Homo sapiens: one gene and its partners. The protein of the gene in region 1 purifies or fractionates together with the protein of each later gene. This does not show direct contact. Each region holds a gene or a part of one and is shown in the gene's direction. Other genes may lie near its edges.

What was found.
Region 2: the proteins of NR1I3 (region 1) and TRIM24 purify together in Homo sapiens (affinity purification with western blotting; one study listed by BioGRID). This does not show direct contact.
Region 3: the proteins of NR1I3 (region 1) and PML purify together in Homo sapiens (affinity purification with western blotting; one study listed by BioGRID). This does not show direct contact.
Region 4: the proteins of NR1I3 (region 1) and MED1 purify together in Homo sapiens (affinity purification with mass spectrometry; 3 studies listed by BioGRID and IntAct, with this or other methods). This does not show direct contact.
Region 5: the proteins of NR1I3 (region 1) and MED13 purify together in Homo sapiens (affinity purification with mass spectrometry; 3 studies listed by BioGRID and IntAct, with this or other methods). This does not show direct contact.

The regions. Positions count from the first base shown.
Region 1 is NC_000001.11:161,232,187-161,237,754, reverse strand, and holds part of NR1I3 (nuclear receptor subfamily 1 group I member 3), read left to right. Parts: intron 1-1,156; 5' UTR 1,157-1,189; coding exon 1,190-1,296; intron 1,297-1,777; coding exon 1,778-1,908; intron 1,909-4,416; coding exon 4,417-4,586; intron 4,587-4,808; coding exon 4,809-4,948; intron 4,949-5,568. UniProt on the Homo sapiens protein: Binds and transactivates the retinoic acid response elements that control expression of the retinoic acid receptor beta 2 and alcohol dehydrogenase 3 genes.
Region 2 is NC_000007.14:138,577,896-138,583,946, forward strand, and holds part of TRIM24 (transcription intermediary factor 1-alpha), read left to right. Parts: intron 1-1,308; coding exon 1,309-1,637; intron 1,638-2,666; coding exon 2,667-2,799; intron 2,800-3,801; coding exon 3,802-3,876; intron 3,877-5,954; coding exon 5,955-6,051. UniProt on the Homo sapiens protein: Transcriptional coactivator that interacts with numerous nuclear receptors and coactivators and modulates the transcription of target genes.
Region 3 is NC_000015.10:73,999,606-74,005,656, forward strand, and holds part of PML (protein PML), read left to right. Parts: intron 1-6,051.
Region 4 is NC_000017.11:39,404,867-39,410,917, reverse strand, and holds part of MED1 (mediator of RNA polymerase II transcription subunit 1), read left to right. Parts: intron 1-196; coding exon 197-3,443; 3' UTR 3,444-5,708; coding exon of another isoform or gene 5,709-5,919; 3' UTR 5,920-6,051. UniProt on the Homo sapiens protein: Component of the Mediator complex, a coactivator involved in the regulated transcription of nearly all RNA polymerase II-dependent genes.
Region 5 is NC_000017.11:61,981,011-61,987,061, reverse strand, and holds part of MED13 (mediator of RNA polymerase II transcription subunit 13), read left to right. Parts: coding exon 1-55; intron 56-1,971; coding exon 1,972-2,062; intron 2,063-2,196; coding exon 2,197-2,411; intron 2,412-2,694; coding exon 2,695-2,891; intron 2,892-3,947; coding exon 3,948-4,864; intron 4,865-6,051. UniProt on the Homo sapiens protein: Component of the Mediator complex, a coactivator involved in the regulated transcription of nearly all RNA polymerase II-dependent genes.

The DNA.
Region 1 (5,568 bases):
TTTTTTGTTTTTTGTTTTGTTTTTTTGGGTTTTTTTTGAGATGGAGTCTCGCTCTGTCGCCCAAGCTGGAGTGCAGTGGCGCAATCTCGGCTCGCTGCAACCTCTGCCTCCCAGGTTGAAGCGATTCTCCTGCCTCAGCCTCCCAAATAGCTGGGACTACAGGCACATGCCACGATGCCCAGCTAATTTTTGTATTTTTAGTAGAGACGGGGTTTCACCATGATGGCCAGGATGGTCTCGATCTCATGACCTGGTGATCCGCCCACCTCGGCCTCCCAAAGTGCTGGAATTACAGGCATGAGACACTGCACCAGGCCTAAGTCAGGAATTTGAAACCAGCCTGGCCAATATGGTGAAACCCCATCTCTACTAAAAATAAAAAATTAGCTGGGCATGGTGGCGGGCACCTTAATCCCAGCTACTCAGGAGGCGGAGGCATGAGAATCACTTGAATCTGGGAGGCGGAGGTTGTAGCGAGCCAAGATTGCACCACTGCCCTCCAGCCTGGGTGACAGAGCAAGACTCAATTTCAGGGAAAAAAAAAAAAAGGAAAGAAAGGAATAAGAGAGGGAGGGAGGAAGGAAGGAAGGAAAAGAAAAAAATATCCTGGTGTGGTGGTGTGTACCTATAGTTCCAGCTACTCAGGAGGTTGAGGCAGGAGGATCCCTTGAGCCCAGGAGTGTGAGGTTACATTGAACTATGATGCACTCCAGCCTAGGCAACACTAGGCAACAGAGTAAGACTCTATCTCAAAAAACAGAACAAACAAATAAACAAAAAAAAATAAACAAAAAAACCAACCTGGGCAACATGGCAAAACCCCATCTCTACAAAAAAAATAAATAAATAAATAAACAAAAATTAGCTGGACATGGTGGTCTGGACCTGTAGTCCCTGCTACTCAGGAGGCTGAAGTGGAGGATTGCTTGAGCCCAGGAGGCAGAGGTTGCAATGAGCAGAGATCTAGCCTAGGTGACAGAGCAAGAACTTGTGTCAGAAAAAAAAGAAAAAGAAAAAGAAAAAGAAAACCACAAAAGATAACGCCAGGGATCAAGTCAAGGGCATGTTTGGTTTGGTTTGGAAAGAGACTCTCTAGAAGGGACAGAAAAGGGTCAAGGGTGGCCCAAAACTGACTGCTGACCCCTCCTACATTCAGGAGTCTGTGACAGCCACCCCAACACGTGACGTCATGGCCAGTAGGGAAGATGAGCTGAGGAACTGTGTGGTATGTGGGGACCAAGCCACAGGCTACCACTTTAATGCGCTGACTTGTGAGGGCTGCAAGGGTTTCTTCAGGTGAGAGTCTCCTCCCCAATGGAAATAGCCCTCCAAACCAAACTCCCTATTAGTCAGCCTTTACACCCTCGCTGGTGCCCAAGCCTGTCCAGCTACATTACTCCTTTATCTTAGAGTCTAACTACCCTGTGGCTGGCATCCTACATCTTGCCAAACACATCACTGTATAAACTGGTGGCATAACAGAGGGAAAGCTGAATGTTTGTCTGATGGACACAGCCCATTAGTCAAGAGCATTTATTATGTACCCACTGCCTGTGAAGCACCTAGCTAGTACTACATCAACTAGGCTTTCTGGAGTGATCCTGTGTTGCCATGGAAATGCTTGAGATGTGTTGGATACTATCCACCCCTGGGGACCTTTGGGCACAGCTCAGATTAGTCCATTTCACCAGATTCCCAGGTCTTTTAGACCATGTCATCTCAGCCCCTCACCTATCCATTGCATCCCAGACTCTAACAACATCTCTGTGTCTCACAGGAGAACAGTCAGCAAAAGCATTGGTCCCACCTGCCCCTTTGCTGGAAGCTGTGAAGTCAGCAAGACTCAGAGGCGCCACTGCCCAGCCTGCAGGTTGCAGAAGTGCTTAGATGCTGGCATGAGGAAAGACAGTGAGTTGGCCCCCTACATCTCAAGAATCCATTGACTGCGTCTGTCTTTGTCCTTGTTCCCAACAGTGCATTCTCTACATAGCAGGCACAGTACTCTTTTTGAAACTAGTTGGATTATGTCACTATTCACTCAAGACATCCAATGGCTCCCCATCTCAAAGTACGTGATCTCATGATCTAGCTCTCCCACAACACCTTTCAGACTTTATTTCATACTCTTCCCCCTTTACTCAACCAATTCTAGCCACACTGACTTCACTGTCATTCTTAGAAACACCAGGCCGGGCGCGGTGGCTCACGCCTGTAATCCCAGCACTTTGGGAGGCCGAGGCAGGCGGATCACGAGGTCAGGAGATCGAGACCATTCTGGCTAACACAGTGAAACCCCGTCTCTACTAAAAAAATACAAAAAAAATTAGCCGGCCGTAGTGGCGGGCGCCTGTAGTCCCAGCTACTCGGGAGGCTGAGGCAGGAGAATGGCGTGAACCCGGGAGGCGGAGCTTGCAGTGAGCCGAGATCGCGCCACTGCACTCCAGCCTGGGTGACAGAGCCAGATTCCGACTCAAAAAAAAAAAAAAAAAAAAAAAAAACACCAAGCGCACTCTTCCCCAAGGCTTTTCCACTTGCCATTTCCTCTACCTGAAATGCTTTTCTCCTAGATAGCCACATGGCTAGTCTTGTCTTTTCTTTTCTTTCTATTTTTTTTGATAGAGTCTCATACTCTGTTGCCCAGGCTGGAGTGCAGTGGCGCCATCTCGGCTCACTGCAACCTCCGCCTCCTGCGTTCAAGTGATTCTCCTGCCTCAGCCTCCTGCATAGCTGGGATTACAGGCATGTGCCACCACACCCAGCTAATTTTTTGTATTTTTAGTAGAGATGAGCTTTCACCATGTTGACCACGCTGGTCTCAAACTCCTGGCCTCAGGCGATCTGCCCACCTCCGCCTCCCAAAGTGCTCAGATTACAGGTGTGTTTTTTATTTTCTATCTGTTGAGTATAGTGCCTGTCACCTAGTAGGTGCTCAATAACTTAATTAATGCTTTCTCTGTGCCAGGTAACTGTGCTATGCTCCCAAAGGAGGATGTAACTGGGGCTCACGGAAGTTAATTTGCCCAAGTTAATTCAACTAAAAACTTGTGCAGGCCGAGCACGGTGGCTCACACCTCTAATCCCAGCACTTTGGAAGGCTGAGACAAGAGGATTGTTGAGGTCAGGAATTCAAGACCAGCCTGGTCAACAGAGTGAGATGTCCTCTCTAGGAAAAGAAGAAGGAAGAAGAAGTTGTACAGTCAGTATTCAAACTCAAGTTTACCTGACTCCCAAACTCTTGCTTTTTCCATATCACACGATTCTCACTATGGAAGAATGAAAGGAAACTGTAGAAGTCAAAGGATCTTGGTCTGAATTCAAGATCTTGGTTTGATCTTGGATCTTTTGCAGAAGTCAAAAGATTTTGGTTTGAATTCAATCTATATTACTTATTTTGTGACCTTGGTTCTGTCACCAGAATCTAAGCCTGTCCACATTTCTAAAAAATGTGATTGGGCTGGGTGCAGTGGCTCACGCCTGTAATCCCAGCACTTTGGGAGGCCGAGGTGAGTGGATCACTTGAGGTCAGGAGTTCGAGACCAGCCTGGCCAACATGGTGAAACCCCGTCTCTACTAAAAATACAAAAAAAAAAAAAAATTAGCAGGGCGTGATGGTGGGTGCCTGTAATCCCAGCTAGTCAGGAGGCTGAGGCAGGGAGAATTGCTTGAACCCAGGGGGCAGAGGTTGCAGTGAGCCGAGATTGCTCCATTGCACTCCAGCCTGGGCGACAGAGTGACAGACTCCATCTCAAAACAAAACAAAACAAACAAAAAAATATATATATACACATATATATACACATATATACACATATATACATGTATACACATATATATACATATATACACATATATATACACACACATATACACACACACACACACACACACACACACACACACACACACACACACACACATATATATATGATGAATACCAGCCCTGCCTATCCTGGGGTTGTTTCATTCAGTGGGATTTAACCTCAGAAGTTTTGAAATTTTGCTAAAACATCAGATAAAGGTTTATTTGAAAGGATTATTTGATTATTTTTGAAGGATTATTTGAAAACATCATATAAAGTGATGTTCTAGGTATGAAGACCCCTCCCTCTACACTGTTTCCCCAAAAGCCCTCGCACCTTTCCTCACATCTTTCATACTTTCCTCGCCACCCTTCCCTTCTCCCCCACAGTGCAGTTTTCTGCTGCAGTTCTTCACAGGTTGGTGGAAGTGTATAGGAGCCCCCTGCCTCCTGGAGCCTCTAGGACTTTAGCCAAGCCCAAGAAAGTCTCAGGAATTCCCCCCACTGCCCCCATCCTTCGTTGTGCAGGGCAGCTGAGGGGCCCCAGATCAGGGACCAGCAGAGAGAAATGCTCTGCTGGTCTCAACAGCTTTGTCATGATCTCTTGCCTGGCACAGTGATACTGTCGGCAGAAGCCCTGGCATTGCGGCGAGCAAAGCAGGCCCAGCGGCGGGCACAGCAAACACCTGTGCAACTGAGTAAGGAGCAAGAAGAGCTGATCCGGACACTCCTGGGGGCCCACACCCGCCACATGGGCACCATGTTTGAACAGTTTGTGCAGTTTAGGGTGAGCACCGACAGGATTTGGGTTGGAATACAACTAAAAGGGCACCCAAAAATGCTGGTCTGAAGGAGAGGGGTGTATGCCATGCACTGATACTGAGAACAGATCTCCAGAACCCCAGCCTGAGCAGGCTTCTCAGCAAGGAACTCTTCCAAGATAAGGCTGGCGAGGCCTAAAGGAGGGCCCTAGGGCCAGAGCCTCTAGCTAATGTTCTGATCATTGCAGCCTCCAGCTCATCTGTTCATCCATCACCAGCCCTTGCCCACCCTGGCCCCTGTGCTGCCTCTGGTCACACACTTCGCAGACATCAACACTTTCATGGTACTGCAAGTCATCAAGTTTACTAAGGACCTGCCCGTCTTCCGGTGAGTGACCTCCCCTCATCTTTCAGGAGGCAAACACTTCAGTAAATTGTATATCCACCCCGAAAAGTCACTGACTACAAATTATCACATGCGTCAGCCTTTCCAAGCATTAGGTCTTGAATTCCCAGCTTTGGTTTTAAATGTGCCAATCAGAACTGGGAGTTCTTCTCCATCTCTGAAGTACAGGCTTGCATCTAAAGTGCCCTTGAGGTGCCGCGCAGTGGCTCACACTAGTAATCCCAGCACTTTGGGAGGCGGAGGCTGGCAGATCGCTTGAGTCCAGAAGTTTGAGACCAGCCTCAGCAACATGACAAAACCCCAACTCTACAAAAAATACAAAAATTAGCTGGGCATGATGGTGGGTGCCTGTAGTCCCAGGTACTCAGGAAGCTGAAGTGGGAGGATCACTTGAGCCCAGGAGGTTGAGGCTGCAGTGAGCTCAGATAGCACCGCTGCATTCCAGCCTGGGTGACAGAGTGAGACTCTGTCTCAAAAAATGAAAGCTAAAAATAATAATAATAGGCCAGGCACGGTGGCTCATGCCTGTAATCCCAGCACTTTGAGAGGCCAAGGTGGGTGGATCACTTGAGCTCAGGAATTTGAGACCAGCCTGGCCAACA
Region 2 (6,051 bases), on another chromosome or scaffold:
TTCTCAAAATAATTCTTATGTACTCATTCTCAGGAAGATACTTGATAATATGAATCATCAAAAATATAGTAAAACAAGAAAGAAGACATAAGATTCCAAAAATGGAATCTGACACAGAAGAAAAAGGCAACCCCCAGTACAGCAGCAGCAGCAGCTTGTGCAGTAGTCTGTAGCAGGAAGACATAGGACTCCCAAGGGAGAAAAATGCTTCAACAGTATTGAGAATCTCCTGTTGGAGATTGTGAGAATAACATAGAAATAGGTACCTAGAAAGATAAGCAACTGAAAATATAAGGTAATTACAGAGTCTTAGTAAAAACAAAAAGTTGTACAAAAAATGTCTTAGTACATTTTGTGGGTCTGCAGTGAACAATATTTAAATAATAATAATAATGATGTAAACAAACACCTGAGTACGAATGTAACTAAAAACTGTGATGCAATCAGGATATAACCTGAATATGCACTTAACCAAAAATTGTGATTTTCAGAATACTTAACCAGTACAAGACAAATACTGATCAGTTAGAATAGATACTGGCAATAAACAGTTATACCAGTACCTACCAACTAAAACAATCAATGCTTAATCAAAACTAAGTTAAAGGGATGGGGTGAATGGTGGTGGTGGTGGTTTTGTGTGTGTGTGTGTGTGTGTGTGTGTGTGTGCGCGCACGCACGAATGGAAGCAGGACGGGGTTGGAGAATCAGAATGTAAAAACCTAATCTCCTGATCTTCACTAGTAAGGATTATAGATGTATTGCAATTTTTAACAATCATTTTATTTAGAAATATGGAGGTAAACAGCAGAAGAAAAAGCTAGGTTTGAAAATAGTTCTTCCAAGGAATAAGTGCTTTTAACTATATCTACATTTATTACTTTGAAATTTTTGAAAACATTTGAAGGAGATTGTTTTTGTTATTGATTTGAAATTTTCACCATCCTGGGCTTCAACAGAAAGTTTAGATTCATCTTATAATTTTTGTATCTTAGGTATAATTTGAATGAACAGCTCCAGTGAGGTATATATATATATATATAGGTCATGTGGTTGACTTCCACTCTACCCAACCCATTCTCTAATTTCTGTAGCCATCCCCAGACTTAGATTTTTTCTCTATTTATTTTGGTATTTTTTAGTAGAGGTTCATGTCTTCTAAGCCAGTTAGCAATAAACATATACCCTTCTCCTGAAGATTCCTTTGAAGCAGCCAGGTGCTCACCAGAGAGTGGTCTACAGTTCAGAATTGCATTAGTGATAAAATTTTTTTTAAAGCCAGTTAAATATATTTTTTTTCTACTACAGGCCAATTATCCAAGAAGCATACTCACCTCCCTGCTCTTAAATAGCAGTCAGAGCTCTACTTCTGAGGAGACTGTGCTAAGATCAGATGCCCCTGATAGTACAGGAGATCAACCTGGACTTCACCAGGACAATTCCTCAAATGGAAAGTCTGAATGGTTGGATCCTTCCCAGAAGTCACCTCTTCATGTTGGAGAGACAAGGAAAGAGGATGACCCCAATGAGGACTGGTGTGCAGTTTGTCAAAACGGAGGGGAACTCCTCTGCTGTGAAAAGTGCCCCAAAGTATTCCATCTTTCTTGTCATGTGCCCACATTGACAAATTTTCCAAGGTAAGATAGTACTTCCCTTCCCACATTCTTTTACTGTAAACTTTTGAAGATTATTTTAACAGAAAGCCTTTGAAAAAACTTAAATGAAATTCCACTTGGCACAAGTGTATACTCCAAAATCCCAATGAATAGTCTAGGTTTTCCCATACCCTTCCGCTTATTCTTTGTGCTTCTTTCAAAAAACTAATCATTCAGCCTGAGCAACACAGGGAGACCCTGTCTGTCTGTACAAAATAAAAAATTAGCCGGGTATGGTAGTGCATGCCTGTAGTCCCAGCTACTCAGGAGGCTGAGGTGGGAGGATTGGTTGAGCCTGAGAGGTCAAGGCTGCAGTAAGCTGTGCTTGCACCACTGCACCCCAGACTGGGCAACAGAGCAAGACCCTCTCCCTAGTCATTACAAAAAGAAAAAAAAATAACAGGCCCTTTAAATTATCACAAGGGATCATCATAAGGAACAATGTCCCTATGCATAACAGCTACCACAGTTTATTATGTCTTTTTGCCAGGCATCGAACTGTATCTTTTACAAGTATTTCAAGTAAATTCTCATACCCTATGGGGATGATGATCATCATCATGACCAAGATGGTTAAGAGCCATTGGGTTGATCTCTCAGTTCTTGGAAGGCCATACTTTTGAAAATTTAATTTTATAAACTTAAGAGTAACAAGAATAGTACAAAGAGCTTTTCTAGTTCCTGAATCCTTTGGAGGAAAAAAATTCAATTATGCCCTAGATATGTGAGCCCTAGATTAAATTTGTTTAGGTGTTTCTTTTTTTTCAATATATGTATCTCACACCTTCTTAACTAGATTTTGATGTTTGTTAGGCCCTTGCATTATATTTCTGCTGTTTCCTCTCAGCATGGTGCAGTATACCTAGTGGTATGTGGTAAATGCTCAGTGATTAAAATTCATGCCAAATGAACAATTCTGTATCATAGATGTCATGGAGGAGGTGGGAAAGGGAAATAGTGAAGAGAGGAAATGATGCATTAGGAATTCAAAAGTACATTGTCCCCTAACAGTGGAGAGTGGATTTGCACTTTCTGCCGAGACTTATCTAAACCAGAAGTTGAATATGATTGTGATGCTCCCAGTCACAACTCAGAAAAAAAGAAAACTGAAGGCCTTGTTAAGTTAACACCTATAGATAAAAGGGTAAGTCTTTGGTAAGATGCATTATTGTATTGTAGTGCAATATTGTACTGTGGTACCTTTTGTCAAAGAGGTGTATATCCATCCAGATTTTATACTGATCCTTTTTATTTAAGAGTATTTTTTTTTGTTTACAAAGGTACATGAATCTTAAAGACTGTAACTTTCTTTAAATTAAAAAAATCACAGAATTAATGCATGTATTTTATAGAAGCTTATTGTACCTGAACAAGATGGAATATGTACCCTAGACTTTTAATCTACCTTAAGTAAATTTCTATTTTGTTTTATTTCCTACTATAGATAAGATTTTTCCTTAGAACTGCCACCAAGGAGCTGGGTTTTTTCTTTACTCTTCCTGGAAATAATTCCTTTTTTTTCACTGAATGGGACTAGACTTATGCATCAAAGCCAACTGATATATTTAACTGTAAATAACATTTAAAGCTACCAAGTCAACACTTTGTTACCAAAAAAACTCCTTTGCTAAATTATTAAGTAGAACAGTCAATATGAAAGTTGTCATGCAAGAGGGGACGTGCCCATTCACTGCCAGTACTACTCAGTGGTTACTGGGATAAACCCATAAAGCAGGGAAGTATATGAATAGCAGAGCACATGGTTGGACCTTCGGCATGCAGAAAGGTGCCTTAGGTCTGGATGCATATTGAGAAGGTCCACCTCCAGTTCTCCTAAGAGACGTACGTTCTTCCTTTATAGACTATTACTAATTTATAATACACAGACTGGAGCAATAAGTGCAAATTTATTGTTAGAAAACTTCAAATGGTTTTCTAGTGATTGTCTTAGTTCATTCAATTACAGGGCCTGTTCCCAAATATTGGGAAGGAGAGCAAAACTCCGAGAATCAGTAATTTTTTTGTATTCATCTGGGTTTTAATTTTTAGTCTGACACTTTGGGACCTCTGAGATTGTTATTTAAAATAAGCTGTGAATTCATTGTTTTATAATATTTTATCTCAGTTTTTATTTATTTTTGCTTAGAAGTGTGAGCGCCTACTTTTATTTCTTTACTGCCATGAAATGAGCCTGGCTTTTCAAGACCCTGTTCCTCTAACTGTAAGTATTAATGTCATTTTCTGCATGTTTACACAGTGGAATGCTTTTCTGGAATTTTATGAGAATCTAGCTTATATTACCATTTTTCAGTACTTTTTAATATCTAAACCTTAAATCTTAATAATACATACTGAATGCTTTGATCCTATGTAGGTACATTTTAGTAAGTGGCCCAAAACTTCTGTTCATTTCTCAGGTATTCTTTCTTCTTTCTTTTCTCATCTATTTTACTTACCACTGGGATGTTTAGGGTGATTTCTGTTAATTTTCTGTATTTCAGGAGTTTTAGGCATGTTTCCGAAGCTGTTGGAAAAAAAACTTTGAAATAAAGACATCTCTCCCTGCTACATTTTCCGTACTTATTTTTCTTTATAGGTCCAGACTTCAAGTAAATAAGTAGACGTTACCAATACAAAAAAAGTTGAGGAAGTATGTGCGCAGGTGCTATTGACTTCAGAAAGGTTCATATTGAAAGTTTGATGTGACTGTGGCCGGGCGCGGTGGCTCACGCCTATAATCCCAGCACTTTGGGAGGCCGAGGCGGGCGGATCACGAGGTCAGGAGATAGAGACCATCCTGGCTAACACGGTGAAACCCCGTCTCTACTAAAAATACAAAAAATTAGCCAGGTGTGGTGGCAGGCGCCTGTAGTCCCAGCTACTCGGGAGGCTGAGGCAGGAGAGTGGCGTGAACCTGGGAGGCGGAGCTTGCAGTGAGCCGAGATCATGCCACTGCACTCCAGCCTGGGCAAAAGAGCAAGACTCCGTCTCAAAAAAAAAAAAAAAAAAGTTTGATGTGACTTTAACGCATAATTTTAGAGTGCTGGAAAGGGCCTGGTACCCCAAAAGAGTATTCTTCTAATGTCTGAACCCCGGAGGCGGAGGTTGCAGTGAGCCGAGATTGCGCCATTGCTCTCCAGCCTGGGCAACAAGAGCAAAACTCTGTCCCAAAAAAAAAATTTTTTTTCATTTGTTCTACAGTTTGATAAATCTCAAATTAATACAAAGTTGAGAAGAAAATCAGCTTAGTAAATACAGTCAGCTTCTCTCTTAAGAACAGGTTTTGAGAACTTGATATAGGAAATAAATACCTCCAGGGAGAAGGGTCTTTTGTACCCAAAAGAGGCAGGGTAAAGAAGTCGAGAGGCTTGTAACAACATTACCAACTTGAAAATGTAACCTTGAATTGTACTTTTTATTATCCTGGCTTACAGTTACGTTATTAATACCAACAATGACAAAGTAGCCCCCTTTTTCTTAATAAATATCATCTCATTTAGTCTGTACAAAATGCTGTGAGTTTGGCAGGATTATCCCTATTTGAAATATGAAGAAACTGAGGTTAAGTAGCTTACCCAGGACCATGACACTGAGCAGCAGAGCTGGGGATTAAACCCAGATTCAAAGTCCTTCTTCCTCTTGTATAATACATGCAGCAAAAACATGTCAGATTCTACTAGAAATGATATTCTTCCTAGTAATTGCTTTTTGTTTAATAATGAAGAAAAAAATCTAGATGATTAAGAGGAAATATGTGAAGACAAGTTTTTTCATTAAAAATAATTGGGGCTGGGTGCAGTGGCTCACGCCTGTAATCCCAACATTTTGGGAGGCTGAGGCAGGCAGATTGCTTGAACCCAGGAGTTTGAGACCAGCCTGGGCAACATGGCAAAACCCCATCTCTACAAAAAATACAAAAATTAGCCGGCTATGTTAGCGCATGCCTGTAACCCCAGCTACGCGAGAGGCTGAGGTGAGAGGATCACTTAAGCCCAGGAGGCAAAGTTTGCAGTGAGCCGAGATTGTGTCACTGCACTCCAGCCTGGGTGACAGAGCAAGACCCTGTCTCAAAAATAATAATTGGTTAAACTTTTGGAAAAAGTCACACAAACCTTTACCAGTGTGTGTGGAAGGCAGTGGGCACTTGTAAACACTGTTAAATGGGTTTCTTTACTAATGGCAAATAGCACAGAGAAAAGCAATGAGAACATTCTGAATTTTAGAGCACATCTCATAGAATATATTTAGGACAAGGTGGAATTTAGCTATTTGTATTATAACATCTCATTTTTTTAATAGGTGCCTGATTATTACAAAATAATTAAAAATCCAATGGATTTGTCAACCATCAAGAAAAGACTACAAGAAGATTATTCCATGTACTCAAAACCTGAAG
Region 3 (6,051 bases), on another chromosome or scaffold:
GTCCTTTGCCTGTTGTTGTTGTTGTTTCCGTTGAGGAATTAAGGGACTAATTAAAGAATTCAGGAACAAATTCCTCGAAAGAAAAAAATGTATGCATTTCTTTTGCTCTTACAATTTATGCAGTTTTAAAACTTACATATTTATTGGATTTTGATTGAAATTGCAATAAATTAGGAGAAATTGGCTTTATCTCTGGTTCTATCTTTTGGATTTAAAAAATTTTTTTTAATTTTTTTTTTTTTTTTTTGAGATGGAGTCTCGCTGTGTCACCCAGGCTGGAGTGCAGTGGCGCGATCTCGGCTCACTGCAACCTCCACCTCCCGGGTTCACGCCATTTTCCTGCCTCAGCCTCCCAAGTAGCTGCGATTACAGGTGCACATCATCATGCCTGGCTAATTTTTTGGCATTTTTAGTAGAGACAGGGTTTCACTATAATGGTCAGGCTGGTCTCCTGACCTCAGGTGATCCACCTGCCTCGGCCTCCCAAAGTTCTGGGATTACAGGCATGAGCCACCATGCCCAGCCTTATACTAATTTCTTAATGAATTTGTAAGCTTTCATGTTTTGAACGTGATAATGCAGCCATCCCACGGGATCCATGGGAGTCTGTTTCAAATTCATAGATGCTCAAGTCTCTGATATAAAATGGCATAGTATTTGTATATAACCTCTACACATCCTCCTGTATACTTTATTTTTTATTTTATTTTTATTTTTTGAGACGGGGTCTTGCTCTGTCGCCCAGGCTGGAGTGCAGTGCTGCACTCGTGGCTCACTGCAGCCTCAATCTCTTGGGTTCAAACAATCCTCCCACCTCAGCCACCAGATTATACAGGACTGCAGGTGTGCACCACCACACTCAGCTAATTTTTAAATTTTTTGTAGAGACAGGGTTTCACGACATTGCCCAGACTGGTCTTGAGAACTCTTGGGCTCAGGCAGCAACCCTCCCTAGGCCTCTCAAAGTGCTGGGATTACAGGTGTGAGCCACTGTACCCATCCCCTCCTGTATACTTTAAGTCATCTCTAGATTACTTATAATGCCTAATACAATGTAAATGCTATGTAAAGAGTTGTTTTACTATATTTTTGAATTTGTATATTTTTTTATTGTGGTACTTTTTTAATTGATTTTTTTTCGCCTGAATATTTTTGATCCAAGATTTGTTGAATCCACGGGTGCGTAACCTGCAGATACTGAGGGCCAACTGTACATATAAATTGTTTAGCGTAGTGCCTGGCACATATTAAATACTCAGTGAATGTTAAAATTCTATTATAATTTCTCTGCTCTAGAACAATTTGAAGAATATAAGAAATTTAGGCTTATAAAAGTTTTTTGAAAAACCATCTTGGAACTGGTGCCTTTTTTATAGTAGATTTTTGGGAACTTTTCCCATTTTTGCCATGGCATTAATCTGTTTTGGCTCTTGTGTCAGATTTTTGGAAGATTTTCCAGTTCATCCTGAGTTATCTTTCATTATTTAAAAATCTCCTATATGCCTGTAACTATACCCCCTTTTTTTATTTCTGATGTTGTATATTTGTGGTTTAGCAGTCTTTTCAAAGTACTGTACTTTTAGTCTTTCCTTAGATTGCTTACTGATTTTAATGTTTTCCTTCTTTCTGTTTGATCATTTTATTTTTGTCATTTTCTTCCTTCTAACTTTTGTCATTATTCATTTTCTAGCTTCTTGAACTTATAATTCATTTATTTGCAATCTTTATTGTTTAATAATAATAACTTTTTTTTTTTTGAGAATCTCCCTCTGTCACCCAGGCTGGAGTGCAGTGGTAGATCTTGGCTCACTGCAACCTGTGCCTCCTGGGTTCAAGTGATTCTCCTGCCTCAGCCTCCCCAGTAGCTGAGACTACAGGTGCCCACCACCATGCCTGGCTAATTTTTTTTATTTTTAGTAGAGACGGGGTTTCCCCATGTTGACCAGGCTGGTCTCGAACTCCTGGCCTCAAGTGATCCACCCGCCTCAGTCTCCCAAAGTTCTGGGATTACAGGCGTGAGCTACAATGCCCTGCCTAATAATAACTCTTTTAAGGCATAAGTTCTCTGTATATGGTTTTGGCTGTATGCCATAACTTTGATAACTTCATTAGTGTTCTCATAGTCAATCATTTCTCAAATTTCATTTCAGTCTTTTCTTAAAAAGGTTCTCTTGCTTAAGGTCAAGAGTTCGAGATCAGCCTGGGCAACATAGCAAGACCTCATCTTTACAAAAAATAAAAAAAATTAGCCAGGCATGGTCGGTGGTACATGCTTGTAGTCCCAGTTATTTGGGAGGTTGAGGCAGGAGGGTTGCTTGAACCTAAGAATTTGAGCCTGCAGTGAGCTGTGATGGTGCCACTTCACTCCAACCAGAGCATCAGAACCGGACCCTGACTCGAAAAAAAAAAAAAAGAAATTTTTTTCTCTTGAAAAGTTTTAGAGAATAGTGTTTTCTAAAATTTTCAAGTGGTTTTGATGTTTGGTTTCTTGTTCTGTCACCCAGGCTGGAATGTGATGGTGCGATTTCATACTTGTTAATTTCTGCACTATGGCCAGTTTATACAGTTTGTATGAGTTCTACATCTAAGACTATATTGAGATTTTCTTAGCGGCCTAGGATATTCCTTGGACTCACATATTCCTAGCAATAATCCTTAGAGTTGAAAAGTTGTATTTGTTGTACACACATATATATACATACACAAATATATGTATATAATATATATGTGTATATATGCATATATCTATATGTATATATCCATATATATGTAAGTTCTAGTGCTTGTGTGTGTGTGTGTATCTCCACGCTATTGAAACTTTCTACCTTTCTTTCTTTTCTTTTTTTTTTTTTTTTTTTGATGGAGTCTTGCTCTGTCATCCAGGTTGGAGTGCAGTGGCATGATCTCGGCTCACTGCAACCTCCTCCTCCCGGGTTCAAGTGTTTCTCCTGCCTCAGCCTCCTGAGTAGCTGGGATTACAGGCGTGTGCCACCATGCCCGGCTAAGTTTTTTTTTTTTTTTTGTATTTTTAGTAGAGAAGGGGTTTCATTATGTTGGCCAGGATGGTCTTGATCTCCTGACCTTGTGATCCACCCGCCTCAGCCTCCCAAAGTGCTGGGATTACAGGCGTGAGCCAACATGTCTGGCCGAAACTTTCTACCTTTCCTTCCATTCTGTTTCACCAGTTCTCTAAATGATAATTACAGAGTGGTAACTTCCCCATCAAAACATATATATAGGCCAGATGTGGTGGCTTCCACCTGTAATCCCAACACTTTGGGAGGCCAAGGCCGGTGGATATTTTGAGCCCAGGAGTTTGAGGCCAGCCTGGGCAATATGGTGAAACCCCGTCTCTACAAAAAAATACAAAATTAGCTGGACATGGTGGCACATGCCTCTCGTCCCAGCTATTCGGGAGGTGGAGGTATTCCTCAGAGAGGATCACCTGAGCCTGTCCGTTCAAGGATGCAGTGAGCCATGATCACGCCACTGCACTCCAGCCTGGGTGACACAATGAGACTCTGTCTTAAAAAAAGAAAAAAAGTGGGCCAGGCGCAGTGGCTCACGCTTGTAATCCCAGCACTTTGGGAGGCTGAGGCAGGCGGATCATGAGGTCAGGAGTTCAATACCAGCCTCACCAACATGGTGAAACCTCGTCTCTATTAAAAATACAAAAATTAGCCGGGCGTGGTGGCGGGCGCCTGTAATCCCAGCTACTCGGGAGGCTGAGGTAGGAGAATTGCTTGAAACTGGAAGGCGGAGGTTGCAGTGAGCTGAGATTGTGCCACTGCACTCCAGCCTGGGCAACAAGAGTGAAACTCCATCTCAGAAAAAAAAAGTGTATACACACACCAACACACACATACATGCACACTCTAGAACCTATCTCATCTATCACCACAAAGAGTAGAATATAACTATTCTTCCAGAGAAAATAAAACATTTAGCACACTTTTATAGTTTTTCTTCTTCCCTCTTCCTTCTCACTTTCAGATTTAGTTGAAATAATGTGAACTTTTAGTTCCAGATTACTACCAAATTGTTAATTTTTTTTTCTTTTGTAAACATCCTTTCTGAACAGGTATTAAGCTTCATGGTCATATTACAACGCACTTGTTAGCCATACCTTATACTTTAATTGGTTTCATTGCTCATGATAAGTTTTCCTATAGCTTTTCTTCTCCTTTCTTGAATTATTTAAGGTGATTAATTTTCCATTTGGCAGGAATACTCCATCAAGTAATTAAAAAAATTATTCCAGAGTTTACTTTCTGAGACCTTAAGTGTCTTTACTTGTATGTCCTTCTTTTGCTGTCACATGTGAGGGAAAGTTGAGCTAGGTGTAAAATTCTGAGGTCATAATCACAGTGCTTTCACCTCAGAATATATAAACCTTGCTTCATAAATTTCTAGTCTCTGGTGTTGTAGATGAGAAGTCCACTAATGGTCTATTTTTTCTCTGTGAGTAATCTGTTTTTGTTTGTTAAGGATCTTTATTTATTTTTATTTATTTTACTTTTTAGAGATGGGGTCTCACTCTGTCACCCAGGTTGGAATGCAGTGGTGCAATCAGAGTTCACTGCAGCCTCAAACTCCTGGGCTCAAGCAATCCTCCCACCTTGACCTCCCAAGTAGCCAGGACTACAGGCACCTGCCACCGTGCCTGGCTAATAAATATAGTTGGATGGTTTTCATTTGTTTATTTGTTTGTTTAGAGATAAGTTCTTGCTCTGTTGCCCAGGCTGGTGTGCAGTGGTGTGATCATAGCTCACTGTAACCTCGAACTCCTAGACTCAAGAGGTCTGCTAGCCTTAGTCTCTGAGTAGCTAGGACTATAGGTGCCTGCCACCATGCCTGGCTAATTTTTAAAATTTTATGTAGAGATAGGGTCTCACTATATTGCCCAGGCTGGTCTAAACTCCTGGCTTCAAGTGATCCTCCTGCCTTAGCCGCCCAAAGCACTGGGATTACAGGCTTGAGCCCATGCCCAGCCTGCTAAAGATCTTTATATAATTTTTTCTTTTTTCAATAATCTTCTATCGCCATTGTTGATCTGAAAAACTCAAGTCTTTCTTCAGCTCTTCATCTCAGGGAAATTGTATTCTGCTTTTTAATTTTTTTTTTTTTTTTGAGATAGAGTATTGCTCTTGGAATATAGTGGCATGATCTTGGCTCATTGCAACCTTTGCCTCCCAGGCTCAAGCAGTTCTCATGCCTCAGCCTCCCAAGTAGCTGGAACTACAGGAATGCGCCACTACACCTGGCTAATTTTTGCATTTTCTTTTTAGTAGACACAAGGTTTTGCCATATTGGCCAGGCTGGTCTTGAATTCCTGGCCTCAAGTGATCTGCCCGCCTTGGCCTCCCAAAGTGCTGGGATTATAGGCGTGAGCCACTGTGCCTGGCCATACTTTTTAATATACTGATAGCCCTTCATTTGTTTATTTTATTTTTTATTTTTATTTTTTGAGACAGGGTCTCACTCTCACCCAGGCTGGAGTGCAATGGCACGATCTCGGCTCACTGCAACCTCCACCTCCTGGGTTCAAGTGATTTTCCTGCCTCAGCCTCCCGAGTAGCTGGGACTACAGGTGCGCACCACCATGCCCAGCTAATTTTTGTATTATTAGTAGAGACGGCGTTTCACCATATTGGCCAGGCTGGTCTCGAACTCCTGACCTCGTGATCCACCCGCCTCAGCCTCCCAAAGTGCTGGGATTACAGGTGTGAGCCACTGCACCCGGCCCATTTGTTTATTTTTAAAATTTTTACTACTGTTGTTATATGGATATTGGAACTCCAAGAACATATTTTACATCTTTTAAATTTTTTCCCCATTAATTCTGTTGCTTTGCTTTTTTCCCCGAGATTCTCAGAGAGCTCCTCGAATTGTTTTTCTAACTCGCCAGCTCATCTTTTCGCCGCTGACTCCATTCTTCTATCTGCTACCCCTGTAGAGTTGTTGTGGGTTTTTTTCCCCCCAGCAATCTTTTTTTTTTTAATTGCCAAAAGAGCTTAATGCTCTCAGGATGCTTTTTCTTGGCAGCCTGCT
Region 4 (6,051 bases), on another chromosome or scaffold:
GACAATTTTATGTTGGGTTAGATTTTTAGAATGTATTTACCCAAAGCTCTGGTATTTGATAGAACTATTTTTGTCTTACAGATTATTTGCCCTACCTGAAAACTGCTTACTGCAAAACTCTGATGTTATATCTAAATCTCAGGTCTCATTCAGCAGCTATTGCAATGTTAACTTTGTTTTCTTCTTTATTTTGCAGATGTATGTCCATCCCTGTGACGATGAGGGCTATTCGGAGGAAAGCTGAAACCATTCAAGCCGACACCCCAGCACTGTCCCTCATTGCAGAGACAGTTGAAGACATGGTGAAAAAGAACCTGCCCCCGGCTAGCAGCCCAGGGTATGGCATGACCACAGGCAACAACCCAATGAGTGGTACCACTACACCAACCAACACCTTTCCGGGGGGTCCCATTACCACCTTGTTTAATATGAGCATGAGCATCAAAGATCGGCATGAGTCGGTGGGCCATGGGGAGGACTTCAGCAAGGTGTCTCAGAACCCAATTCTTACCAGTTTGTTGCAAATCACAGGGAACGGGGGGTCTACCATTGGCTCGAGTCCGACCCCTCCTCATCACACGCCGCCACCTGTCTCTTCGATGGCCGGCAACACCAAGAACCACCCGATGCTCATGAACCTTCTTAAAGATAATCCTGCCCAGGATTTCTCAACCCTTTATGGAAGCAGCCCTTTAGAAAGGCAGAACTCCTCTTCCGGCTCACCCCGCATGGAAATATGCTCGGGGAGCAACAAGACCAAGAAAAAGAAGTCATCAAGATTACCACCTGAGAAACCAAAGCACCAGACTGAAGATGACTTTCAGAGGGAGCTATTTTCAATGGATGTTGACTCACAGAACCCTATCTTTGATGTCAACATGACAGCTGACACGCTGGATACGCCACACATCACTCCAGCTCCAAGCCAGTGTAGCACTCCCCCAACAACTTACCCACAACCAGTACCTCACCCCCAACCCAGTATTCAAAGGATGGTCCGACTATCCAGTTCAGACAGCATTGGCCCAGATGTAACTGACATCCTTTCAGACATTGCAGAAGAAGCTTCTAAACTTCCCAGCACTAGTGATGATTGCCCAGCCATTGGCACCCCTCTTCGAGATTCTTCAAGCTCTGGGCATTCTCAGAGTACCCTGTTTGACTCTGATGTCTTTCAAACTAACAATAATGAAAATCCATACACTGATCCAGCTGATCTTATTGCAGATGCTGCTGGAAGCCCCAGTAGTGACTCTCCTACCAATCATTTTTTTCATGATGGAGTAGATTTCAATCCTGATTTATTGAACAGCCAGAGCCAAAGTGGTTTTGGAGAAGAATATTTTGATGAAAGCAGCCAAAGTGGGGATAATGATGATTTCAAAGGATTTGCATCTCAGGCACTAAATACTTTGGGGGTGCCAATGCTTGGAGGTGATAATGGGGAGACCAAGTTTAAGGGCAATAACCAAGCCGACACAGTTGATTTCAGTATTATTTCAGTAGCCGGCAAAGCTTTAGCTCCTGCAGATCTTATGGAGCATCACAGTGGTAGTCAGGGTCCTTTACTGACCACTGGGGACTTAGGGAAAGAAAAGACTCAAAAGAGGGTAAAGGAAGGCAATGGCACCAGTAATAGTACTCTCTCGGGGCCCGGATTAGACAGCAAACCAGGGAAGCGCAGTCGGACCCCTTCTAATGATGGGAAAAGCAAAGATAAGCCTCCAAAGCGGAAGAAGGCAGACACTGAGGGAAAGTCTCCATCTCATAGTTCTTCTAACAGACCTTTTACCCCACCTACCAGTACAGGTGGATCTAAATCGCCAGGCAGTGCAGGAAGATCTCAGACTCCCCCAGGTGTTGCCACACCACCCATTCCCAAAATCACTATTCAGATTCCTAAGGGAACAGTGATGGTGGGCAAGCCTTCCTCTCACAGTCAGTATACCAGCAGTGGTTCTGTGTCTTCCTCAGGCAGCAAAAGCCACCATAGCCATTCTTCCTCCTCTTCCTCATCTGCTTCCACCTCAGGGAAGATGAAAAGCAGTAAATCAGAAGGTTCATCAAGTTCCAAGTTAAGTAGCAGTATGTATTCTAGCCAGGGGTCTTCTGGATCTAGCCAGTCCAAAAATTCATCCCAGTCTGGGGGGAAGCCAGGCTCCTCTCCCATAACCAAGCATGGACTGAGCAGTGGCTCTAGCAGCACCAAGATGAAACCTCAAGGAAAGCCATCATCACTTATGAATCCTTCTTTAAGTAAACCAAACATATCCCCTTCTCATTCAAGGCCACCTGGAGGCTCTGACAAGCTTGCCTCTCCAATGAAGCCTGTTCCTGGAACTCCTCCATCCTCTAAAGCCAAGTCCCCTATCAGTTCAGGTTCTGGTGGTTCTCATATGTCTGGAACTAGTTCAAGCTCTGGCATGAAGTCATCTTCAGGGTTAGGATCCTCAGGCTCGTTGTCCCAGAAAACTCCCCCATCATCTAATTCCTGTACGGCATCTTCCTCCTCCTTTTCCTCAAGTGGCTCTTCCATGTCATCCTCTCAGAACCAGCATGGGAGTTCTAAAGGAAAATCTCCCAGCAGAAACAAGAAGCCGTCCTTGACAGCTGTCATAGATAAACTGAAGCATGGGGTTGTCACCAGTGGCCCTGGGGGTGAAGACCCACTGGACGGCCAGATGGGGGTGAGCACAAATTCTTCCAGCCATCCTATGTCCTCCAAACATAACATGTCAGGAGGAGAGTTTCAGGGCAAGCGTGAGAAAAGTGATAAAGACAAATCAAAGGTTTCCACCTCCGGGAGTTCAGTGGATTCTTCTAAGAAGACCTCAGAGTCAAAAAATGTGGGGAGCACAGGTGTGGCAAAAATTATCATCAGTAAGCATGATGGAGGCTCCCCTAGCATTAAAGCCAAAGTGACTTTGCAGAAACCTGGGGAAAGTAGTGGAGAAGGGCTTAGGCCTCAAATGGCTTCTTCTAAAAACTATGGCTCTCCACTCATCAGTGGTTCCACTCCAAAGCATGAGCGTGGCTCTCCCAGCCATAGTAAGTCACCAGCATATACCCCCCAGAATCTGGACAGTGAAAGTGAGTCAGGCTCCTCCATAGCAGAGAAATCTTATCAGAATAGTCCCAGCTCAGACGATGGTATCCGACCACTTCCAGAATACAGCACAGAGAAACATAAGAAGCACAAAAAGGAAAAGAAGAAAGTAAAAGACAAAGATAGGGACCGAGACCGGGACAAAGACCGAGACAAGAAAAAATCTCATAGCATCAAGCCAGAGAGTTGGTCCAAATCACCCATCTCTTCAGACCAGTCCTTGTCTATGACAAGTAACACAATCTTATCTGCAGACAGACCCTCAAGGCTCAGCCCAGACTTTATGATTGGGGAGGAAGATGATGATCTTATGGATGTGGCCCTGATTGGGAATTAGGAACCTTATTTCCTAAAAGAAACAGGGCCAGAGGAAAAAAAACTATTGATAAGTTTATAGGCAAACCACCATAAGGGGTGAGTCAGACAGGTCTGATTTGGTTAAGAATCCTAAATGGCATGGCTTTGACATCAAGCTGGGTGAATTAGAAAGGCATATCCAGACCCTATTAAAGAAACCACAGGGTTTGATTCTGGTTACCAGGAAGTCTTCTTTGTTCCTGTGCCAGAAAGAAAGTTAAAATACTTGCTTAAGAAAGGGAGGGGGGTGGGAGGGGTGTAGGGAGAGGGAAGGGAGGGAAACAGTTTTGTGGGAAATATTCATATATATTTTCTTCTCCCTTTTTCCATTTTTAGGCCATGTTTTAAACTCATTTTAGTGCATGTATATGAAGGGCTGGGCAGAAAATGAAAAAGCAATACATTCCTTGATGCATTTGCATGAAGGTTGTTCAACTTTGTTTGAGGTAGTTGTCCGTTTGAGTCATGGGCAAATGAAGGACTTTGGTCATTTTGGACACTTAAGTAATGTTTGGTGTCTGTTTCTTAGGAGTGACTGGGGGAGGGAAGATTATTTTAGCTATTTATTTGTAATATTTTAACCCTTTATCTGTTTGTTTTTATACAGTGTTTCGTTCTAAATCTATGAGGTTTAGGGTTCAAAATGATGGAAGGCCGAAGAGCAAGGCTTATATGGTGGTAGGGAGCTTATAGCTTGTGCTAATACTGTAGCATCAAGCCCAAGCAAATTAGTCAGAGCCCGCCTTTAGAGTTAAATATAATAGAAAAACCAAAATGATATTTTTATTTTAGGAGGGTTTAAATAGGGTTCAGAGATCATAGGAATATTAGGAGTTACCTCTCTGTGGAGGTATTGACTTGTAATCTCATTTTCCTTTCAAAAAAAAAAAAAAAAGCTAAGGTGGCTTGTTGGGATGTAAACATGTTTTCAGATGCAGTAAGGTTTAGTGTAGGACAGCCTTCCTGACCCAGTGGCATGAAAACCATTACAGGATTAATAGTTCTCCTACTTCCACAATGTGCCAAAAGTCTGCATCCCAGCATTTTGTTTGCAGGAGAACTGATGCCATTCCTAAGAGCTGGACTCACTGTTTCTCTTCATCACAAGGAGAAGGAGTCCAAACTTTAATCACTCCACTGTATGCTCCCTGAGATAAAACAGTAAAAAATCCGCAGCCATAGTTCACTTAAAACAATTTCAAGCTCACTTTTGAAGTAATGGGGGCCTGGAATGCTAGGTGAGCATGAAGATAAACCCTTGCTACTATGTAGCAACCCAATTGGACCTTTTTGGAGAAATAGGTCTGAGTCTGGATTCTGGGGGACATCAATAAGAGCCCTTCACATAAAAATATAGAAATCCAGGAGACTGTTTCGAGTGCAACAGAAGTTCTCAGTATTTGGAGGGTCCTCTCAAAAATTCTGCGGCCTTACTTTGATATTGACACCTGCACTGTGCCATTCCTGATTATTCCATTCAGGATCTGTATCAGCGGGATGGGGCATGGTCCCCAGCACAACTCTTCTGGGTTAAAAAAAAAAAGCCAGGTGATTCCTTTGTGTGTTATGTCGTAAGTGGAGTGACTTCATCATATATGGAAGAAGATTTCTATATTCAGCTTTTTCTGCAGGTTGGAGTCAGCATAGAGTTGGAAAATCAGCTTTGGCTTTCTTTCCTGTCTCATTTCCTCTAGTGTTCTCCTTTTTATTGTCATCAGCTCTCAACAACTCTGCCACTTTTGTGTCCCAAGGTAATAAGATGTAGGAAACAAAACATTGTAAAGTGGAGCAAGAAAAGTTATCAATTAACCACATCAGAGTCAAATGTCTTGGGTGACACTAAGGAGGATATGGGCAGGTGATACCAGAGTGCTTTATCTTGTGATGTTGATACAGTAGCAGCCTCTCAGACATTCAGCCAGGTTGGATTTCTCATGAGTTTGTCACCTAGTTTTGAATCCTATCCCGTTGGTTTCTGCAGGAAAAAAAAAAAAATTTATGTGGTTTTTAAAATTTGTTCTGAGTGGGGAGAATCTTAGGGGGAATGTACTGAATAGTATCATGGGCTCAGCTCCCCCATGCAGGGCCAACAAATACCAAAATGAGTAAACTGGGAAGCTTTTCTCTCTTTCTGTCTTCATCCCAGATCAAAGAATCCCGAGTTAGGATCTGGATGAAGGATAAGCCCCTGAATTGTCGATGGGCTCACCCCCACACTGACCCAGCATCTGAACTTGCTTAACAGGGAGCCGGGGCTAAACTGCTTCACCCTGCCTGAGAACCAGGGAGCACTGCATTTCTCCACAGGGTGGAGGAGAAGAGGCAGAATAAACCAAGCCTGGGACACCTCCCTCCTGTCTAGGTGTACTCATTCTTCTGTTTCAAAAGAAGGCAAGGACATGAAGTCAACTTCTACCTATCTTCTGCTGCTGGTGTCTTATGTATTCTCAGTTTGACCTGATTCCTCTTCTGTCTTTTGACTTAACATTAGGGGTTCTTGGTCATAACCTGCTCTGATGTACATAAAGATTTCAGGTTCAATATCAATGTGTCTTAAAACAGAAGTATTTTAGCGGGTGGGGGGTGGG
Region 5 (6,051 bases), on another chromosome or scaffold:
TGTCTCTTATACTGACCTTGATAATCTCTTCAATTCTGATGAAGATGAACTAACAGTGAGTATCTCATTAATGAATAGGATTATAATTTGTTTTCCTTGATTTTATTATTTTTTTATTTTTTAGAAGTGATTTGTGAGTTTAATACTATGTTTTAGCCCTGAACAATAGGAAATATAGTAAAACCTCATTCATTGATTTCTTTTTTAAATCTCATGTTTGAGTAGTCTTGCCATAGTGTCATCTATAAACTTTGAGGGTTTTGTTTCTCCTTTTGTTTTTACATTTGGGGGACACATGATTAACCTTAATTTGAGCTCTGCCGTATGTTCTGTTTTGTAGTTTTAGGAAGCAGAATTATTTTCCTATTTGATTCTGTAGTTTGAGAAATGACTCTGGAATTTACTCATTCAGAGAACACATACATAATTGACATTAAAGTTATTTGCTTTGTCAATTTATTAAGGAATACCAGCTCTTTTGAATTTGTTTTGCATCACAGCTATTATAAGACAGATACATGATATAACAATAAAAGAGGAAAAAAATAATATTTAATCTTTAACACCCATTTGCAGAGAAAGGTGAAGATAAAAGAAATTAAAGCTTAAAATGAGATTCCCTAGAATGTCAAGTCTCTGTCAAATTAATGAATTGGGTGCTGCATTATCATAAAAGGGAATTCCTTTTCATCTGCATAAAGGTAGCTTGGAAACTTCTATGGTACATTTGATCTTTCCTTTCCTATATAATATGCATTTAGTCCTCTCTCAACATATATATCTCTATATGTGTGTATATGTGTGTGTGTACATATACATATATATATATTGCAGATACATAAACTTTTACTGTGTATCCCATAATGTAGTACATTTTAGGGCACCCTTTACTAGGCAACTATATCCTTGAATGCTTTGGCACATTCATACTTTCTCTCTACTACCATTCCTGTATCAGCTGTGGTTCCTCTGAAATAAAAGATTGTAGTCAGAACGTGGTCTACATATTAATATTTATCACAGACTGTCTAACAGAAGACATGGAACAAATGTTAGCTCTGAAAACACTGGTAAGAGCTTGGAGATAGTAAAACTTGTTTGTTCAATCTACTAAAAGTTAGGAACTCTATTGCTTTGTCATTAGATCTTCTGAAGTTTGTACTTAGTTTTACCTGTTAACAGTATTTTTGCAGGAATAGGGAGACTATTAAAACAAGGTGAAAGTATAAATAAGAATTTAGATAGGTGAGTGATTGATTATATAGGAAACTTTAATGTGTTCAACTTAAGGAGACAAATGCTTTCTCTGCAAGTATCTTTTACCAAGAAGCATTTCTAATGTTAATTACAACCCCTTCTTATTGCAGGTTTTCTTATTTTTATTTATTTTAAGACAAGAGTCTCATTGTATTGCCCATGCTGGAGTGCAGTGGTGCAGTCCTGGCTCACTGCAACCTCTGCCTCCCAGGCTCAAGCAATTCTTGTGCCTCAGCCTCCCGAGTAGCTGGAATTACAGGCATGCCCCACCCAGCTAATTTTTTGTATTTTTAGTAGAGATGAGGTTTCACCATGTTGGCCAGGCTGGTCTCAAACTCCTGGCCTCAAATTGATCTGCCTGCCTCAGCCTCCCAAAGTGCTGGGATTACAGGTGTGAGCTACCATGTCCGGCCTCTTATTACTGGGTTTTAAGTTAAGGTTAACCTTACTTCTGTGTATTTTGAAAGTATTGGTCATTTTCTTTGGAGGAACTTTTTCCTTTTAATTTGGAGGCTTACCAAATAAATTAATCTGGAGTCAGTGATTAAGAAATATTTTATATCTTTCAACACTAGTATGTATTTGGCTGTATCACAGATTCAAAATACTACTTTTAATGAATGGGCTTTACTGTTAAGTTATATCTGAATGATTACTATTTTGAGATCACATTGGATGTAAAATTTTAGATAAATATGTGCTTTTTTTAAATAGCCTGGATCTAAAAAATCAGCAAATGGATCAGATGATAAAGCCAGCTGCAAGGAATCAAAGACAGGAAATCTGGACCCGTTATCTTGCATAAGTAAGCTTCCCTCATCTGTGCTCGAGATAAATTTGCGAACTTTTAATCTCAACAAAGCTCCCCACTCCTTTTGGTTTAAACACAGATTCGCCTATTTTTAGTCATGTTAAAATGTATGTTTTTATTAAATATAGGCACTGCAGATCTTCATAAAATGTATCCTACACCACCATCATTGGAACAACATATTATGGGATTTTCCCCAATGAATATGAATAATAAAGAATATGGTAGTATGGATACAACACCTGGAGGAACTGTTCTAGAAGGAAATAGTTCTAGTATAGGAGCGCAGTTCAAAATTGAGGTTGATGAGGGATTCTGTAGCCCCAAACCTTCTGAAATTAAAGTAAGTATGTTTTTTCTAGAAAAATAATTCACTTCCTATATTTTCTTATAGAATTAATTTGTTGCTATAGTCAAAAATTATTTTATAGTGGTTGCGGTTTTGTAGCTAAGTTGAGGACTGAATTATTGTTGTCACTATTAAGAATGCATTTAAGAAAATAATAGAATTGTATTTAGATTTTATTCTGTTTAAAGAAAGGAAAAAAGGTCCAGAGCCTGTTTGTTTATTTATTTTTTCCTCCTAGAAGATAAGATACTGAAAACCTACCATCTTTATATTGTAGGATTTTTCTTATGTCTATAAGCCTGAAAATTGTCAAATTCTAGTGGGATGTTCCATGTTTGCACCTCTAAAAACTCTACCAAGCCAATATCTGCCCCCTATCAAATTGCCAGAAGAGTGTATTTACCGTCAGAGTTGGACTGTTGGAAAATTGGAATTGCTTTCTTCAGGGCCTTCAATGCCATTCATCAAAGAGGGGTATGATTTATGTTGTTACAATAGTATGTGACTGCTTATACAGCTTTAATTTTTTTTTCATAGATTTACCTGGTATGCTGGAAAAATAAAATTGGTTTTTGAAAATTCTAAAAATTATTTCTGGTTAATCAATTATAGTGATTGGCTGGGAGCAGTGAATCACGCCTGTAATTCCCATACTTTGGGAGGCCAAGGCAGGCGTATCCCTTGAGGTCAGGAGTTTGAGATCAGCCTGGCCAACATACGAAACCTCGTCTCTACTAAAAATACAAAAATTAGCCAAGCGTGGTGGCGCATGCTTGTAGTCCCAGCTACTTGGGAGGCTGAGGCACAAGAATGGCTTGAACCTGGGAGTCAGGCATTGCAGGGAGCCGAGATCGCACCAGTGCACTCCAGCCTGGGCAAGAGTGAGACTTTGTCTCAAAAAAAAAAAAAAAAAGGTTAATTGGGTATGGATAAACTATTAGGAAACTTAAGACTATTATGCTTGATTTGTATTCCGAAGCACCTTTTCTTTTGGGCTGCAATTTTAAATTGCTCCCATTTTTACATTTGCCATCTTTTCCACACTTTTCACATTTTAACATCTCTGACTTGGTCAGTTTCAACTCAAGGCTAAAAGAAATCTGAATCTGAGATGTCTTATAAGTGGTAGCATTTTAAAATTACCATTTTTCCCTTTTTACACATGAGCATCTCTAAAATCATTTTTCTTTTTTTATAGTCAGTAGCATCTTAGAATCAAGGAAATATAAGTATTTCTAGTAAACAAAATTTATAGATAGTAAATATGGATGTCTAGGTATGCATTAGTGTATAGAGTGCTTATTAATGATTTTTGAACTTGTTAATTGATCCTTAGTCAACAACAATCACTTAGAGTAGATATGTTAACCAGAAATAAGAATTGACTGTGCTTGTAATTCTTGCAATACTTGTCCTTTCATAATTTTCTATGTAATTGAAAAACATTTGGGACGTTTTTAGTTGTATTTCACATTACTAATATGTTCCTTTATATATATATTTGATCTTCTTTTACCCTGGTGATGATAGTGATGGAAGTAATATGGATCAAGAATATGGCACTGCTTATACACCTCAAACTCATACTTCTTTTGGGATGCCTCCTAGCAGTGCACCTCCTAGTAACAGCGGAGCAGGAATTCTTCCTTCTCCATCCACCCCTCGGTTTCCAACTCCAAGGACTCCAAGGACTCCTCGGACTCCTCGTGGAGCTGGTGGACCTGCTAGTGCTCAAGGTTCAGTCAAATATGAAAATTCAGACTTGTATTCACCAGCTTCTACCCCATCTACATGCAGACCCCTTAATTCTGTTGAACCTGCAACTGTCCCTTCCATCCCTGAAGCACACAGTCTTTATGTAAACCTCATCCTTTCAGAATCAGTTATGAATTTGTTTAAAGACTGTAACTTTGATAGTTGTTGCATCTGTGTTTGCAACATGAACATCAAGGGTGCCGATGTTGGAGTTTACATTCCAGATCCAACGCAGGAAGCACAATATAGGTGTACCTGTGGCTTCAGTGCTGTCATGAACAGAAAATTTGGAAACAATTCAGGATTATTTCTTGAAGATGAACTAGATATCATAGGACGCAATACAGACTGTGGCAAAGAAGCAGAAAAACGTTTTGAAGCTCTCAGGGCTACCTCTGCTGAACATGTTAATGGAGGACTAAAGGAATCTGAAAAATTATCTGATGATTTGATATTATTGCTACAAGATCAGTGCACTAATTTATTTTCACCCTTTGGAGCAGCAGACCAAGATCCTTTTCCTAAAAGTGGTGTAATTAGCAATTGGGTACGTGTTGAAGAGCGTGACTGTTGCAATGACTGCTACCTTGCATTAGAACATGGGCGTCAGTTCATGGATAACATGTCAGGAGGAAAAGTTGATGAAGCACTTGTGAAAAGTTCATGCTTACACCCCTGGTCCAAAAGAAACGGTAAAGTATGCCAATAAAATACTTTTTTGTTTGCTTATTTCCCTTTAGTTACATTCTTAGGAAAAAGTAATAAAGGCAGTTTCCCATGTGGCAAATACATTTAAAGTTGGACTTAAAACTCTTTATGGATGATGTTTTTAAAGGGAGAATTTCTTAGCAGTTTAGTTTAATTTCACCAATAAAAGTATGGTTATTATAAATCTGTAATTATATACTTATGTAGGAATATGAAAGGCACATTCCATATATTTATTAGCATAACATTGCTAGTGGTCTGCTTTATTCAACATTCTTTCACTCATTAAGTATTTACTGGGCACCTTGTATGTGCCAGGTATTAGCCTAGATTCACTGTTGAACAAAGCACACATATTCTTTGCCCTTTTTGAATCTATAATTTAGTGGAGAAAATAGGAAATAAACAAAAAAGCATATAATAGATAGTAAGAAGTAATTTGGAGGAAAAGCAGAGTAAAACAGAACAAGACACCACATATGTACTATTTTAGATGTATGGTCAGATAAGATACTACTGAGGAGATAGCATATGGGAAAACTCCTACATAACATAGAATATGAGCTATGTAGTTAAATGAGGGAAGAGTGTTTCAGGCAGTGCAAAGACCCTGAGGGAGTATTTTGCTTTTACATGTTTGAGGAACATTAAGGTGACTGATGCTGCTGGAATGCTTTGTGTGATAGGGAGACTGGAAGGAGATGAAATTTAGGAGGTAGCCATTCACCAGCATCATTTAGAGTCTTATAGACCATGTAAGGCCTTTGTGGTTTATACTAAATGTGATGGGAAGCTATTGAACAGTTTTGACAAGGAAAGTAACATGATCCTTATTCTGATTGTTTTTTAAGAGATCTCTCAGTCTGGCACAGTGGCTCATGCCTGTAATCCCAGCACTTTGGGAGGCTGAGGTAGGCAGGTCACCTGAGGTCAGGAGTTCGAGACCTGCCTGACCAACATAGTGAAATCCCGTCTTTACTAAAAATTTAAAATTAGCTGGGCTTGGTGGTGGGCGCCTATAATCCCAGCTACTCGGGAGGCTAAGGCAGGATAATTACTTGAACCTGGGAGGCGGAAGTTGCAGTGAGCCAAGATCGCACTACTGCACTCCAGCCTGGGCAACAGGAGTGAAACTCCCATCTAAAAGAAAAAAAAAATGGCTGGGTGCGGT